Linked DNA regions of Homo sapiens: all the other regions are reported to be linked to region 4. Evidence: microRNA targets listed by miRTarBase, many of them from high-throughput screens and not tested one by one. Region 4 holds a microRNA gene; each other region holds the end of a gene's coding sequence.
What was found. The annotated mature microRNA hsa-miR-3682-5p reads CUACUUCUACCUGUGUUAUCAU and lies in region 4 at 1,043-1,064, shown strand. An mRNA with a match to its seed (bases 2 to 7 or 8) in the 3' UTR can be bound and repressed. Matches are read on the target gene's strand: a 7mer-m8 pairs with bases 2 to 8, a 7mer-A1 pairs with bases 2 to 7 and ends in A, and an 8mer does both.

Region 1 (3,537 bases), not on the chromosome of region 4:
GGAGGTGACATCAACAATGACACAAACACATCACTCTGCAACTGAAGGCAGGGAACCAGACTCCTAGGGCTAAGCAGAGATGTCAGACTTCAGAGGCATTTGGGGGACTCTTCAGATCCACATCCTCACTGAAAATCCAGGGCCTGTTTCTCTCCAGTTCACTACCGCTTGGGCAGCAGCTCCCACTGCTTCAGGCTGGTCTTTGCTTTCCAGAAAAGATGGACTCATGAGCACTTTTTCAGCCCCTGTATATATGGCTATTCTTATGCTCCCTTTTGGAGATGTCCTTTTCCTCGACCTCCCTTGCTTACAAATGGAATAGGGTGGGAGAGGGCCTGTGCCTGGAAGTACTCTTGCAGGCTTTTCTGTGGGGCAGCTGGAGGTGCAGGAGCTCTCCATAACTGCCTTCCTGGCCTTTGACTCATCCAGAAACAAAGGTAGGAAACTTGTGACCAAGTGAACAATGGGGCCAGCTGAGCCTGGCCCTGCTTTAAGGGAGGCAGAGATTGAACATTCCCCACCTGGAGTTCTGCTTCCACGGCCACTCTCTAGAACTCTATTTGCATCCTGTCTTTGGCTCTGAGGGCCTCATGTAGCTAAAGCTCCTTCAGTTGTATCCAGACCCCCTGGAAGAGGCCGGGCAAATCATCCACTTCTGCCCCCAGAGTCCCTCTGCCCTGCTCTGTAACTCTTTACCTTAATGGCACATCCTTGATCAACCCTGGCTTGGGCCTCAGTCATTTTCTAGCTACTGTAAAGGATGCCCCCTTCAATAAACATGCTATTTTAAAGTGGGGCATGCTTGGGGTGGGGGGTCTCTCTGAAGGAGTGACTGCATTGAGCCCAGTCCTTGAGCTTGGCAATGGTGTTGCTAGTCTGGTCTCATTCCTGCTCTCTCACAGAGTAGACTGAAAAACAGAATAAGCTGAGGTTAAGAAAGATGTTGCTTTTTGCATTGTGATGGTGCTGGTACTGAGAAGCATGCAGCATGTCAGCTGTCCCCAGGCTGCTCTCCACCACCTTAAATGTTTGCTTGTTCTTTTGAGCAACATTTAATGACACCCTCCCAAGCGTCAGCCACCATGCTAGGCACTTACCCAAGAGATGGGTAAGACATGGTTCTTGTCTTTGAGGAAAAATGCTAGGGGAGATGGATACATAAATAGGCCATGGTATACTATAGGTAAAGGTCAATAATAATAATGTTTAAAACGTGCCAGAAAGCACAGAGGAGTGTGTGACCTATTATGTTGTGTCTGGTGAGGAGTATGGAAGGAAGGTCATCAAAGCTGGTATGGAGGGGATAATTTTTGCACTCGGTCGAGAAGAGTGACCTGAAGAAAAGAGAAGAACAGCTGGAAAAAAAACTAGTGAGTGGAGGTCCAGCACTATGAGAGAAACTGTTTAGTTGGGGAGCCAGAGATGGAGTAGCTGATGGGCCACTTGGGGGAATGAGACTGAAATGTGAGGCTTCCAGCTAGGAGACCATCAGAAGAGTCAAGGAGAGCACAGCTCTGGAGCCAGCCTACCCTGGGGTTGAGCTCCAGCCCCATGATTTACTACCGGGGTGTCCTTGTCAAGTTACTTGTTCTTTTTGTGCTTCAGTTTCCTTATTTGAAAATGGGAAGGGTAATATCCACTTCGTATTTTTTTTTCTTTTTCTTCAGGACTTAAATGAATTCATACCTATGTAATACTGAGAACAGTGCTTGGCTCATAGTAAGTCGTATATGAGTTTTAGCAATGAAAGCAAACAATATCAATAACAAAACAAAAATGCAAAACAATGACAACAAAACCCACATGGAAATCAAACCTCTACAAAACTGATGAAGGCAGTGGCTGTAAAAGTGGGGAGAGAAGTCAAAATGGAGAGGGGATGTGCTCCTTCAGTGTTGTGCTAAATAACTGGGGATGCTCTGAAACACCCCTAATTATACTGGGGTTGGAAACCCCATTTGAACTGAAGCACTGAGGTGCAAGTTTACTCTTGCATGTGGTCACACACAGAGTAAGAGACTGAAGCAGAAAGCACATCTTCTCTCCTCATTCACCTGTGAGGTGGGTTAACTGTTTTCAAAGAGAGAATAGGGAATAGATTGTGCTGTACAGCAGCTCAGAGTTGGCATTTGAAATGGAGACTAGTAAGTCTGCCATTGAAGCCATGAGTTTTCTGTGTTTTTAAAACATCTTCAATCCATGTGGACAGCTCATTGAACAGGTGCCTGGTGACTGCCCCACACTGGTGAAAATCTGTGGGTTGGCTTGGCATGCATCTTATTTATCCAGAGGTACACACCCAGAGCACACTTTTGAAGGGTTGTTGGCTCTGTGCACAGGCATGTTGTGTGTGTGTACACAACAGTATGTGTGTATGTGTGGACAGATGCGTATATAATAATTCATATCTTCCCATTTCAAGCACTGAGCTAAATTCAGCCTATACTTTTTTTTTTTTTTCTGAGAAGCCTTTCCTACTTCTGTAAAAAGAAACTCTCATTCCAAAGGAAAGAATGGGAGGCTGAAGTTATTGAAAATGAGATGGGAAATGGGAAGATAGTCACTTTGCAACTCCAAATTCCAGGTCTGATGCTTAGGGTGTTAGTCATTAAGCAAATTCTTCCTGATAACCAATTACAGAGAGGAAAAAAGAGAGTAAGTTTTTTACTGCCCCCTACCTCCTCCTCCCCCGTGCCCCGCTCCTTACCCCCAACCACCAGTGAAGGTGTTTTAGTTCTCCCCAGCCACCTGAGCTAGGGGCAGGAGACCTTCCCTTCCAATAGAGTTCCTTGGTGAAGGTGACTTCTTCATCCACTGGATGCTTTCCCAGGGCAGTTTTGTTGATCCTCCAAGAACATCAAGTCACTGTGTATGAATAGCTCCCACAGAAGTGCCGAGTGTTAAAAGAACCCTTCCTCATGACCTGATGGGATGGGCGGCAGTGTGTCCACACTTGGGCCTGACGTTATACTTGGGGAAAGGGTGGTAGTCTGAGTGTCTCAGAGCAGGGCACTGGCTAGGTGTGAGGTTTCCTACTGCTCTGTAGGCTGCTCATGCTGGAGTCCTGAGCTCCACCAGGAGTCCCTCTGGGCTGCCGAGCAAGTGGATCTTCCAAGGGGCCCATCAGCCTGCTCTGCACAAGAGTTATAGGAATTGTAGAGCCCCAGCACAACAGTCAAGACCAGCATCACTGCAGCCATCATCCAGATCACTTGCCAGTGCTGACACAGTTTGGGATACATGACTTGTAAGAAATGGACCAATTCTTCAAGTTTGCTGTCAATGAAAAAAAATATGCAGAGGCTTTAGTATACTGGGCACACATATGATACACAGACCCACAGTTCTCTCTGCGGATAGCTTCCATGCTGTCTTGAGCAATAGTTCTCAAACTTAGCTGTGCCTAGATTGGGTTGGCAGCAATTGTTCAAAATACCCCAAGCATACTAAATGAGAATATCCAAAGTTATGGTCCAGGAATCATTGGCTAAATTTTCCCAGGTGATTTTGATTCCACCAGTCCACAGCCTTGAAGTT
Region 2 (3,000 bases), not on the chromosome of region 4:
CCAGGGAGCTTTAAAAAAAATTCCAGTGCTCAGGCTGCACCCAACACCAATTAAATCTGAATCTGGGGGGAAGGGAGTAAAGTCCAGGCCTCTATATTTTTTTTTAAAGCTCCTCAGGTAATTCCAGTGTGCAGCCAAGATGGAGAACCTCTGCCTTGGAGAATACAGTCCCTGCCCTTCTGAAGCTTACTCTTACAATATTTACTTGGTGGATTCTGTCCACCAAGTGTCTTCCTCACTTCCGTCAGTAACTTCTTTACAGCTGGAATCTGGAATTTTAAATTTATAGATAGAGATATAAATTCACATACAGGCCAGGCGCGGTGGCTCATGCCTGTAATGCTAGCACTTTGGGAGGCCAAAGCAGGAGTATCACTTGAGGTCAGGAGTTCAAGACCAGCCTGGCCAACACGGTGAAACCCCACTTCTACTAAAAATACAAAAATTAGCAGTGCATGGTGGCGGGTGCCTGTAATCCCAGCTACTTGGGAGGCTGAGGCAGGAGAATCACTTGAACCTGGGAGGTGGAGGTTGCAGCGAGCTGAGACTGCATCACCTCACTCCAGCCTGGGTGACAGAGCGAGACTCCATCTCAAAAATAATAACAATAATAATAAAATAAATAATAAATAAATTCACATACACACATATATAAAATACATGCACACATATTTTTATTTAACTTAGGCCCTGATTATTAGTATATAAAACAGAAAAACCAAGTGCCTTGGTAATTTACATATCTTCTCCAAATCTTTAAAGAACCAAGCTCTAAAAAACACACGTAAAGATATTTAAGTCATAAAACACACACACACACACACACACACACACACACTCTAATGACCTTCAGGAACCATAATCCAATAATATATTTAATAGGTAAGATCTCATTCATCAATATACAAAAAAAAAAAACAAACCAGAAAACAAAAAACTAACTTTGATTAAGACATGTGCCCTTAGTAAGGGCACTTACAATTAGAAAGGTTTATCGGTAGCACTTTGAGGTAGCATATTTTGTAAAGTCACAGGGCTGCTCTGCAGTTTCTCCTGGATACAAAGGTAGAGGCCATCAGCCTTTGCCCCTAGAAGAGGAAAGTGAAATTATCTGTACTCATTGCCAGTGTCAGCCTGAACACACTTTCTACCACCCACCCTTGGCCATCCCTCCTCTACACTTTATGCGTCGGGGGTTTAGAACAACGTAAAGGCATTTTGCTGCTTCTTTCCTCTTGGTACGGCAGCATCCCAGGCTGTGGAGCCAGTTGCCTCTTGCCGCATGTGATTCACCAGCAGGAGACGCATGCACCCTGTGGAAAGGGAAGCTGGGCATCACAGCATGCTTTTTAATTGGCTTTAACATTTCATTAAGTAAGAGTGACTCATTCCTGCAAGGCTTTAAAGAGGTTCATTTCTGAGTATTCTCTCCACGATTCTGACCCTAGAAAGCGCTCCTTTTTTTCCTCCCTGGGTGTAATCATTTTGGGGTATCATTAAGCTTTCTGGGATTTTCCTGGCAGGAGGGTGAACAGAAAAGCTTTAAAAAATCCACACAAAACAATAACAAAAAACCCAAGTGCAAGAGCAATACCAAGAACAGACTTCCTTTGTGCAAGTTAAAATGATACAAGTTTACGGTTCAGGAAAACAACCTACTTCTTAAAACAAAACAAAACAAAACAAAAAAGGAAATATTCAGTTGAGCTCTGCATTTTAAACACAAATATACAGTCAAAAGAGGCTAAGGATTAAAGCTGCAAAAATGGTCCCAACAGCCTCAGACTTTTGCTGCAGGAAAATTTTTTGCCCAATGGTCACAGATTAAAGGGATATCTAATCCCCAAGAGCCCTTTTGTCCCAATATACTTCCTGTTTGAAAGTTTAACCCTTACAAGTAATTGATATATAAGTGAATAAAAATAGCACATGTCCAGGCAAAAAAGGGCATGAGCTGGGCCTGAGTTGCCACTTAAAACTGTCATTCAATATCATAGAAAATCCTCAAAGGCTGCCCAGAAACAGGGCCCCAGGCACTGCTGAACATGCCAGCCACCAAGTCAACTGCCACCCGACCCAACTGAGCATTAAACTTCAAGTATCCAAGGTGCTACAATAGCTGGTCCTCTAAAGACCTCAGGCTGACTCTCAGAAGCCCCCACTCCACCCCACCCCATTATACAAAAAGTAAAAACATTGCTCATGGTCATTACAAAATACGGGGGTGGAAAGTGAGGAATAAGAGATCTGCTCTCTGAATACACCAGCCTTACAAATACAAACAACGTCTTTAACATTTTGTACAACTAGAAGGTGCATGAAGCTGGTATCCAAGCAATAATTTCAAACGCTTTCTTTTCTCCCCATTCTGTATCAAACTGGAAAATGGTTCCGTTGGGTTAACAGTGTCATTTTAAAATGCCATAAATTAAATAAGTTAGTTCACATTTTTTTTCCCCCAGCACTTAAGTTACAGTTAGTCTCTAATGTGCTTTTGAAGCTTGCTTTAGCAGTTCCAGGTCTCTTCTGCGGACAGTGGTGGCTCTGGGACAACCATATTCGTCCAGCTGCAAAGGTATGAATTGTTCAAGCACCCCAAGGCCCTGTCCAGCAGGACTGGTAAATAGCTTAGTCCATGATGGTTTAAAGTTTCCACTGAATCCCAAAAATATGGTACTCCCTAAAAAAAAAAAAAAAAAAGAAAAAGAAAAAAAATCAATTTTTATAGCTACATTCCAGCAAGAGAATATAGGAGGTGAGTCGGAGGTGAGCAAAACAAAGGCAGCTATTAAAAAACTCTGCACTTCCTTACATCAGCAAATGAACTCTCACCACCCACCTTTTGCCCCAGATAACAAACCACATCCCAACACACTTCCTCTCACATTGTGCCCTTATTTAGAAATCATCTTAATGATACCCACTCCAGCAAACAAGCTCATGAAAATGGTCTGGTAGCTGAATTGCACCATAAAATTACCTATGTTGCTGGCCCTGTAA
Region 3 (3,537 bases), not on the chromosome of region 4:
ACACACCCCAGCCTGGCTTTACGTAGCTCAATCCTGTCAGGCTAATCTAATCTTTTGTGACAGAGCAGCAGACCTGGTAGATCAAGGGGGAAAACAATAGTTGGAATTTATGTTTGTTGGCTTCAAAACTTTTGATTCCTGGGTCCCACTCAATATAATTATCATTAAATTGGTTGAAAGGTTAGAGAAAGGGAGAGTGCCAGTATGAGCTGGGGGTGGTGCTCACAGACAGAGGTGGTGCTCCTTAGGGGATCAGCCTTGAGTGCAGTGGCCCTGAACATTCACATGAATGGGCCAGATGACAAAAAAGAGAACATATTCAAAGTCAGCATTCATGTTAAGGGGTGGGGGCAGGTGTAGATAAATAACCAGCCAGAAAAGCAACCTTGGCAATTACATAAGTGATCAACACAAACAGGCAGACTTGTCTAGAAGAGATTTCATGTTTAGAAACAATAATGCACACAATCAGCAATGTAGCATTAATAAGAACGTGACATTGGGATGAAGAAATGCAACTTGTAGGAATTCCATAGTTCTAAACCTGCATTAACTGTATCCCTTTCCAAACTCCACAGCTAAAGATGGGAGGGAGAATATGGACAACATTCAAGGAAGAGCCACAGAAGTGATTGAACTGGGCTGGGACATGGGAATGAAAGACTTCTACAAAAAAGTTAAATGAATTAGTTTATTGAACTTGGAGATGGACACCCTTATAAGGGCAATAACAAACAAAAATAGAAATAGGTTTAAGTTATAACACACAAGAATAAAATTAGATGTAAAGACGACTTTCCTCAGTTTTAAGGTGGATAAGTGGGTTGTTAAATTATAACAGATTTCTCTAGGAGGGTCTGGTGTACTCCAGGCTCGCTGGGAGGCAGACCTGGATAATCTCTGAGTATATCTGTCCCCACCTGGCATTGTTGAGACCCTTCAGAGTACTTCTTTAGGTCCATGATTGAAAATTAAGAGGCAGCCAGTGCCTCCATTGTTATAAGGGCCATAAGGTTTGGTTATCTTTGATAAAGAGAAATGGAAACATATAACAGAGCTCTTCCTCAAGTCCTGCATTGGGAACATTAGCACACACCAGGACCTTTCCTATATGTAGACACAGTGCAGATTTGATCTGTGGTGCAGCCAAACTAAAACACAGGTCATGGCATTGTTTCCCCACTTTTGGTACAAACAAGCCCTTAATCAAGTCTCTAATCTAGGGACAGTAACATCGGCTATTTGAGTGCAGGCACCCTAGGTTGTTAATGTCTGTTTCCCAACACTATTCCATTCCAATATTTTTCTTTACCTAAAGTGGGATAATGATCATAAAAAAAAACACAATAATTTTCCTTACAACACTGCTGATAACTAATAATCACACAATTGCATGTAAGTTAATTCTTTAAATTTAATCAGTCATTTATAAAACTCCCCAATTAGTAAAAGTTGGCTTATTTTAACAGCCTTAAACATTGGCCACTATTTAAACAAGACATTCTAAAAAAAAAAGCAATCACATAATAGTTTATAGTCATTTACAAGTGGATGGTATACATTTAGATACAGAGGTAGAAGTTCACCTTTACAATGTTTCACTAATACACATATACCAAATTCAAGGCACAAAATAGTTTGCTTTACAAAAAAATACTGTAAAAATGTCATTTGCTGTTCTACAATGTGAATAAACCTTTCAAAAGAATCTTTACACCCTTCCATACATATGCCATAGAATAAGATTTCTTCCTCTCACTAATCATAGTTGGCACAAAAATGGGGACTTTTCAATGTAGAAGTTCCCATTTTTAAAAACTGTTCCTTTGCAGAGCTGCTATGTATTCTAGATAAGAGTCCATCCAAAGAAATGAAACACAGCAACTTCCTGAGGAAAGGGCACTTTCTGTATGCAGCAAAATTCATAGGTAGAAAATGTATGATCTTTTAGGATAATTAGGTCTCCAGACACTTAATGAAGTATATCAGAGATAAAATTAAAAATTCAAGGCTGGGTGCAGTGGCTCATGCCTGTAATCCCAGCACTTTGGGAGGCCGAGGCAGGTGGATCACAATGTCAAGAGATGGAGACCATCCTGACCAACATGGTGAAACCCCGTCTCTACTAAAAATACAAAAATTAGCTGGGCGTGGTGGCGCATGCCTGTAGTCCCAGCTACTTGGGAGGCTGAGACAGCAGAATCACTTGAAACTGGGAGGCAGAGATTGCAGTGAGCCGTGATTGTGCTACTGCACTCCAGCCTGGTGACAGAGCGAGACTCCATCAAAAAAAAAAAAAAAAAAATTCAACTAATACTTTAGTCATTGTGACTTTAAGAAAGAGACTTGGTCACCTTTACTGTAACACTCAGACATCATTTACTTCAGTTGATGGAGATTTCAAAATTCCTTTTCAAAAGAGCTAAACATACAAACACCATGAAAAAGTCACCTAGGCCTTGCAAAACGGAAACTTAGAAAACGTGAGAAAATACAGCACTATCAGTCCTTGAAATTGCGAAGATGTCAACTGGCTAGAGTTTAATAACAAGAATGAGTAAACTCTGGGAATTCTGAAAAATCACACACATGAAACATACAGTCTAGTTATCATTTCTAGACTTCCTGCTCATTAAAAAATAATGGTAACCTGAAGATGTCACACTGCTTCTCTACAGATTTGACTGGTTTCTGGGTTCTGCCTAAAAGGACCCTGTTGGCAACAACCTAAGTTCACTTGTACTGATCACATTTTCCAAGTACTCTAGTCGGTTAATTTACACTTTATTTTTTTAAAAAGTTGATTTAAAAAAGAAACAACACAAGTTTAGAATCCATAAAATGTCAGCAATGCTGATGTGCACTGGACTGAAACATCTTGATCATCTTCTGATAGAAGTAATATTCCATACAAAAAGATTCTTAGATTCCATTTTTTGCTTCATTATTGTTTGTGGCTTGCTTTCTTTGAGCAATAAAGGGGTACATACACTTGTCCGCTCCTAGGAACCGATACATGCACACAACTGCTTCAAATGGTAGGATGCTGAAAAAGGGAAGTCACAGCTGTTAGCAAACTTGAAGTTTCAATTAAGACATCGGGCAGGCATGGAGAGACCCAGTCAGTGAGGGAACCCCTCCCAGTTACCTCTTCATGAAGGTCACGATGTACATGAGGCGGGGAGTGCAGATCATGGGCTGGTCAGTGAGGATGGCCTTCATGGCCTGCTTCACACAGTAATCAGGCTTCAGAGGTGGCAGAAAAGGCTCAATTTCTTTCCTGAAAGTTATTTATTCAAAAACAAAATGAAAAATTAACACAATAGAAAAGACTGGAAATACATATCAAAACATTAACAGTGATGTTATCTGAGTGATGGGATTTTGGGTACATTTTGTTTTCTTCATAGTGCTTTTCTGTATTTTCCAAATTTTCCTGCTATGAACACATTTTATTGGCACAGTCTGGAGAACAAGTTGGGAAAAAAAAGCAAAATTGGTCTGCTTTTCCATAAGATGAAAAAGTCATGTTTTTAA
Region 4 (3,537 bases):
AATAGGCATAGATTTTCTTTTGTTTTCTTTTTCTTCTAAATTTTTTTCTTGCCACACCCAGGGGCAGCCTCGAATTATTTTGTTTTTAAGTTCACCTTTTAGACTGATTTGCCTACCTACTCCCTCCTTCTTTCCCTTTCTCCCTCCCTCCTTCCCTTTTTCCCTTTTCTTTTTTTTAAGATGGAGTCTCATGCTTGTTGCCCAGGATGGAGTGCGGTGGCACAATCTCGGCTCACTGCAACCTCCGCCTCCCAGGTTCAAGCGATTCTCCTGTGTCAGCCTCCCGAGTAGCTGGGACTACAGGCACGCACCACCACTCCCAGCTAATTTTTGTATTTTTAATAGAGACAAGGTTTCACCAAGTTAGCCAGGCTGGTCTCAAACTTCTGACCTTGTGATCCACCCACCTCGGCCTACCTAAGTACTGGGATTACAGGCGTGAGCCAGTGCACTGGCCTATTATCTCTTTTTAACAAAGAATTAAGAAATCTAATATTCTTTCCCAAGATCGTACAAAGAATTGTGGCAAATTAGGAATTAGATTTTTGTCTTAATTCAAAACCTGGTATTTACCCCAGTGTGCCAAACAGCTTTATAATGAAGACAACATTAATCAAGCATCACATTTTTAAAGGCATATATCTATTTTTTTGGCTATGCAAAAAACCTTGTCTCTATTAAAAATACAAAAATTGGCTAGGCATTTCAAATGTGATACAATAAAATATTAACACAAAAGTAATTTCTATTTATAAAATTTAAAATGGCAGGTTTTCTGTGTGACGTTTGAGTTTGAGATGATTTGACTGGCATGAGGCCCATCATTGGGAGGTAAAAATTACAGCACAAAGAAAACTAAGCAGGTGCATATGAGGTATTGTCTCTTTATGCTCATCAAAAAATAATCTCCAAAAGAAAAGTTAAAAAAATTATTGTTATAAATTGCATGAAATACATAGTGGGCTCGATTCATAGCCCCCGTCCGTATCTATATCTCTATATCTATAGAGACATAACTTCTTTCTTCGTAAGTTATATATGTCTACTTCTACCTGTGTTATCATAATAAAGGTGTCATGATGATACAGGTGGAGGTAGAAATATATAACTTATCTCTTCATAAGGGCTAAAATGAGAACTAAAAGTAATGAGAATTCAGTTGAATATGATTAATTATCAGGATATGTTAATTAGTTCTCTTGATGCTTACTGTGATGCAAAGTATGTGACGTATTTTAAACATTTTATAATAATTGTTCGTATGTTAACCATTAGGCAAGATTTGTATTTCTAATGCTTTTAATGTTCTTTTAAAATAATGTTTGGAAAATAAAAATACTGAAAATCCTAACATTTCTGAACACCAGTTTGCAATATAATGAATTTCCTGTCTGATCATTTTAAAACTATCAGAGCATGGCAATGATCATTTTTGCCCAATGGATAACAATGTGTTGAACCACAGACAGAGAGCTCTTTGCCTTAAGAGATGAAATAACTTGTTTGACTATATATAAATTTTTTTTTTTTTTTGTAGAGACGGGGTCTCCCTATGTTGCCCAGGTTGGTCTCCAACTCATGGGCTCAAGCGATCCTCCCGCCTCAGCCTTCCAAAGTGCTGGGAATAGAGGCGTTACATTTTGTATCATATATGCTCAGACTAATCAAGGATAGTTAATGCCAAAGACTATTTACAAAACTAAGTTTCTTACTCAGTGAAAAGAGGCTAAATGAACATTTGAGCAACTCATTTAAATGAAATTTAGCTGGAAAAAGAAAAATTTTGAATTTTTGGTTTATCGATCAGGGTCTGGATTTAAGAATCAAAAAACATTAACATAAGCAGGAAAGCATTTAATATAGGAAACTAGATGTCTACAGAATGGTTAGATAGGGCTCTATGATGAGTCTCCAGGAAAGATTGCACCATAAACATGACCAGCCGGACCAGCCATAAATGCTACTACTTCTGCTCCAACCAAGAAGAGAGGAAGTCAGGAAGCCTACCTTGGACTTTTGACTTCAAGAACACACTGTTAAAGTTGTTGTCCACCAGTGAGGAAGTTGCTGCCACTACTATTTCCACAAAAAACTCTCTTGACACCTACAAAGCAAGTGGCTGAACAACAAGACACTGCTATAGAAAAAATCTGGCACCATGCAGTTAGATGGAGAAACTAAGTTTGCATCTAGAACCCTAGCTTCAGGGAAATCTGGAAAGTGTACTAACACAAAAGTATACTCAAAGGAGATGCAGAGTTCTAATCTGTTCTGTCCACAGAGGTTCACCTTGGTAGTCAACATTTGTTTTTTTTTTTGAGATGGGTTCTCACTCTGTTGCCCAAGCTGGAGTGTAGTGGTGCAATCTCGGCTCACTGCAACCTCCACCTCCTGGGTTCAAGCGATTTTCCTGCCTCAGCCTCCTGAGTAGCTGGGATTACAGGCATGCGCCAACACGCCCAGCTAATTTTTGTAGCAGAGACGGGGTTTCACCATGTTGGCCAGGCTGGTCTTGAACTCCTGACCTCAGGTGATCCACCCACCTCACCCTCCCAAAGTGCTGTGATTATAGGCGTGAGCCACTGCATCCGGCCAGTAGTCAACATTTTTTATACATACCTCTAGCCATACTCCCAAACAACAGCAGTAGCTATACCACCATTCTCCCTCTTGAAATAATGCAGCTTCTCTCATTTAAACAAAAATATGTACTTTGCTAGGCGCTGCATAGCAATCTCAGCACTTTGGGAGGCTGAAGTGGGAGGATCGCTTGAGCCCAGGAGTTTGAGACCCACCTGGGCAACGTGACAAAACCCCGTTTCTACAGAAAAGTTACTTGGGCATGGTGGCAGGTACCTGTAGTCCCAGCTACTGGGGAGGCTGAGGTGGGAAGATCGCCTGAGTGAGTCCAGGAGGCCTAGGCTGCAGTGAGCCAAGATCACACCAGTGCAATCCAGCCTGCAGTGAGATCCTGTCACAAAACAAAACAAAATAAAAAATGCATACTCTCCTCCAGAGGGAAGATGCTAAGTCTGATCAATCTCTGGGTTTCTCAGTGATGTTCATTATTCTTCTAGTTCAGTCAAAAATCTCAACGTGATATTCTGTAACCTAAGGACCAAATTATAAAATTTACCACCAACAAACAAATTTAATCATCAAGAGTAAAAAGAAGAAATTGGTTGAAAATGTTTCATAGACACACACACACACACACCAGGATAAAGAATAAATGGGGATTAGTACAGACTTTGCTTGCTTCCGTTGGTCAAGAAGCTGTGATTGGTATTTTATAATGTCCTCCACTTCCCATTTCCTATCCCTTTGCCATTAGCTAGCATGTCATGTAGTCTGAGAAAGTAAGTTTTATCAAATAGCAGAGGGAATGAAATACTAAGAAAACAAAATTTATAAAACATAATGTAGGATTACAGAAATAACTGGATAAATGGAAATGCTTAATATCATATATAAAAGAATTTATATATATGCTTAATATCATATATAATATCATATATAAAAGACAATTCGAATTAA
Region 5 (3,537 bases), not on the chromosome of region 4:
TTAAGGCCCTCCTTCCAGGTTTCTCTCTCTCTTTTTTTTTTTTTTTTTTTTTGGCCTGAGAACTTGGCTTCATCCATGTATAGTTGATACTGGAAATGACGACCCCCTTCAGTAGAGACACCCCCGCCCCAGCACACACACCCCTCAGTGTAATCTGTAACCTCCACAGGAAGTAAAATAAGTGCAACATTCATCCAAAAGATACAATGGGGACGGTAGGAAGGTGTTTCCTCTTCCCTGGGGGTGAAGTGAACATCTACAGTCTAGGACAGGGGATCAGCTCTAATCCTAGAGGGTAAGCCAAAATAACTGCTAAGATTTTGGTATGACTTCGTAGTTGATAAAGCACTTTTATTATCCATTCTCCCATTTAACTTTTATAATACTGTGTGAAGTGAGTTACATTATTTCATTTTATAAATGAGGAAACAAATTCAAAGAGATAAATGACTTGCCAGGGCCAAAATCCAGAGCTAGATCTTGAGTCCAGATCTTGTACTCCTCTCATATTTCTTCTGAAACATTTAAAAGTGTACATTGGTTGTCAAATGTCAAACATTACTTACTTCATACTTTTTTCCTCCAATCTTTATTTCACAGTTGTTCAGGGGATGAAGGAAGCTCAGGAAAGGCTGACGGGTGATGCCTTCAGAAAGAAACATCTTGAAGATGAATTGTAACATGAATGTGCCCCTTCTTTCATCAGAGTTAGTGTTCTGGAAGGAAAGCAGCAGGGAAGGGAATATTGAGGAATCATCTAGAACAATTAAGCCGACCAGGAAACCTCATTCCTACCTACACTGGAAGGAGCGCTCTCACTGTGGAAGAGTTCTGCTAACAGAAGCTGGTCTGCATGTTTGTGGATCCAGCGGAGAGTGGCAGACTTTCTTCTCCTTTTCCCTCTCACCTAAATGTCAACTTGTCATTGAATGTAAAGAATGAAACCTTCTGACACAAAACTTGAGCCACTTGGATGTTTACTCCTCGCACTTAAGTATTTGAGTCTTTTCCCATTTCCTCCCACTTTACTCACCTTAGTGGTGAAAGGAGACTAGTAGCATCTTTTCTACAACGTTAAAATTGCAGAAGTAGCTTATCATTAAAAAACAACAACAACAACAATAACAATAAATCCTAAGTGTAAATCAGTTATTCTACCCCCTACCAAGGATATCAGCCTGTTTTTTCCCTTTTTTCTCCTGGGAATAATTGTGGGCTTCTTCCCAAATTTCTACAGCCTCTTTCCTCTTCTCATGCTTGAGCTTCCCTGTTTGCACGCATGCGTGTGCAGGACTGGCTGTGTGCTTGGACTCGGCTCCAGGTGGAAGCATGCTTTCCCTTGTTACTGTTGGAGAAACTCAAACCTTCAAGCCCTAGGTGTAGCCATTTTGTCAAGTCATCAACTGTATTTTTGTACTGGCATTAACAAAAAAAGAGATAAAATATTGTACCATTAAACTTTAATAAAACTTTAAAAGGAAATGTGCTGTGATGGCCTTTTTGTTATTGGAAAAGGAGGGAGGGATGGAGATCACTTCAGGAAGAAAACTAACCTAGAGGACCTAATCTAGGAGTCCTAACCTAGGACTCCTGCTCCTTCACCTCCCACATTCAAATGAGCACAATGGCTCCTCTCTTTTACTTTTTAAATACCTGAATTTCCTCTGTCCACACTATCACTGTTTTAGCACGGGGCAGGCTTTTTCTCTCTTCGACTATTTATTGCTATAGCCCCTTAACTTGCCTATTGGCTCTAATATTCCCTCCTCCTGCAATCGATCCATATCACTCCCCTGTTTAAAACCTTTCCTGGCTGGACACAGTGGCTCACGCCTGTACTCCCAGCACTTTGGGAGGCCAAGGTGGGCGAATCACCTGAGGTAGGGAGTTCGAGACCAGCCTGGCCAACATGGCGAAACCCCGGCTCTACTAAAAATACAAAATTAGGCCGGGCGCGGTGACTCACGCCTGTAATCCCGGCACTTTGGGAGGCCGAGGCGGGCGGATCACGAGGTCGGGAGATCGAGACCACGGTGAAACCCCGTCTCTACTAAAAATACAAAAAAAAAAAAAAAAATTAGCCAGGCGCGGTGGTGGGCGCCTGTAGTCCCAGTTACTCGGGAGGCTGAAGCAGGAAAATGGCGTGAACCCGGGAGGCGGAGCTTGCAGGGAACCGAGATCGCACCACTGCACTCCAGCCTGGGTGACAGAGCGAGACTCCGTCTCAAAAAAACAAAACAAAACAAAAACAACAAAATTAGCCGGATGTGGTGGCACATGCCTGTAATCCCAGCTACTCAGGAGGCTGAGGCAGGAGAATCGCTTGAACCCGGGAGGCGGAGGTTGTGGTGAACTGAGATTGTGCCATTGCACTCCAGCCTGGGCAACAAGAGTGAAACTCCATCTCAAAAAAAAAAAAAAAAAAAAAAAAAAAAAAAACCTTTCCAGCCATCTTTAAGATAATAGTATTAATGGTAGGAGATATTTGAACCTCAGTCTGTGCCAAGTACTCTTCTAAGTGCTTTATATATGTTATCCCATTTAGTTTCACTTTAGTACTCCTAACAGCCCTGTGATAAAGGTACTACTGTACTCCCAGAGTACAGAGGAAGAATTTGAAACATAAGGAAGCCAAGACACAGGATAAAGTCAAGATCTTTACCATGGCCTTTAAGAAGCTGCCTACTTCTTCAACCTCATTTATTCCCATTTATGTTTTTGCATTATGTGTTCTTGTGACACCAAATTGCTTTGAGTTCTCCTGACAACATGCTGTTTTATGCTTTTCTATCTTCGTTCATCTTGTTTCCTCAGCCTAAAATATGTTCTTTCTGTTCTTCCTTCATACCCATTTTGAGCCACTTCTTCCAGAGAGTCTTCCCTGATCTTTCTCATGAGGATAAAATATCCTTTCCCCAATACATCTATCATAGCCCTGGACCACTTTACATTGAAGTAACCCAATTGCACATCTGGGGCTGTCATCAGGTGGCCATTCTCCTCGAGGGCAGAAGCTAGTCCTCTGTCCTGTGTATCTAAAACTTTCAGGTGACTTGCCAAGGTCTATGTTAGGTTCTTTTCATCCATTCTCTAAACACCATCAGTGGTCCTGTGGGATAGGTATTAGTAACGTCATTTTAGGGGGAACTTTAGAGAAGGCAAAGACTAGCCAGGTTCTTTTGTTGTTGTTGTTGTTGTTGTTGTTGTTTGAGACGGAGTTTCGCTCTTATTGCCCAGGCTGGAGTGCAATGGCGAGGTCTTGGCTCACCGCAACATTGAATGCCTCCCGGATTCAAGCGATTCTCCTGCCTCTGCCTCCCAAGCAGCAGGGATTACAGGCACCCATCACCATGCTCATCTAATTTGTTTTTTTTTTTTTTTTTTTTTTGGGGGGGATGGAGTCTCGCTCTTGTCACCCAGGCTGGAGTCCCGTGGTGTGATCTCGGCTCACTGTAACCTCTGCCTCCTGGGTTCAAGCTATTCTCCTGCTTCAGCCTCCTGAGTAGCAGGGATTACAGGAGCCCCCCCACCACGCCC

Region 1: miRTarBase lists IRAG1 as a target of hsa-miR-3682-5p. Seed matches in the 3' UTR shown: 7mer-m8 at 2,476-2,482.
Region 2: miRTarBase lists CEMIP2 as a target of hsa-miR-3682-5p. Seed matches in the 3' UTR shown: 7mer-m8 at 1,657-1,663.
Region 3: the mRNA of RDH10 is a reported target of hsa-miR-3682-5p. Seed matches in the 3' UTR shown: 7mer-A1 at 2,380-2,386 and 7mer-m8 at 946-952.
Region 5: miRTarBase lists TXNDC12 as a target of hsa-miR-3682-5p. Seed matches in the 3' UTR shown: 7mer-m8 at 1,085-1,091.

Annotation. Positions count from the first base shown.
Region 1 is chr11:10,573,300-10,576,836 of GRCh38, forward strand. IRAG1 (inositol 1,4,5-triphosphate receptor associated 1) reads right to left here. Exons shown (of 21, transcript NM_130385.4): 21 at 1-3,276. The coding sequence ends at 3,033. All of the region lies in intron 1 of IRAG1-AS1 (IRAG1 antisense RNA 1), which reads left to right. Among named protein-coding and RNA genes, the nearest start is that of LYVE1, 6.4 kb to the left of the region's middle.
Region 2 is chr9:71,682,714-71,685,713 of GRCh38, forward strand. It overlaps CEMIP2 (cell migration inducing hyaluronidase 2), which reads right to left. Exons shown (of 24, transcript NM_013390.3): 24 at 653-2,680. The coding sequence ends at 2,484. Among named protein-coding and RNA genes, the nearest start is that of CEMIP2, 84 kb to the right of the region's middle.
Region 3 is chr8:73,322,422-73,325,958 of GRCh38, reverse strand. RDH10 (retinol dehydrogenase 10) reads right to left here. Exons shown (of 6, transcript NM_172037.5): 5 at 3,149-3,280; 6 at 678-3,046. The coding sequence ends at 2,923. All of the region lies in intron 3 of RDH10-AS1 (RDH10 antisense RNA 1), which reads left to right. Among named protein-coding and RNA genes, the nearest start is that of RDH10, 30 kb to the right of the region's middle.
Region 4 is chr2:53,846,697-53,850,233 of GRCh38, reverse strand. MIR3682 (microRNA 3682) reads left to right here and starts at 1,029; the gene lies at 1,029-1,112. All of the region lies in intron 1 of GPR75-ASB3 (GPR75-ASB3 readthrough), which reads left to right.
Region 5 is chr1:52,018,076-52,021,612 of GRCh38, reverse strand. TXNDC12 (thioredoxin domain containing 12) reads left to right here. Exons shown (of 7, transcript NM_015913.4): 7 at 601-1,482. The coding sequence ends at 680. Among named protein-coding and RNA genes, the nearest start is that of KTI12, 14 kb to the left of the region's middle.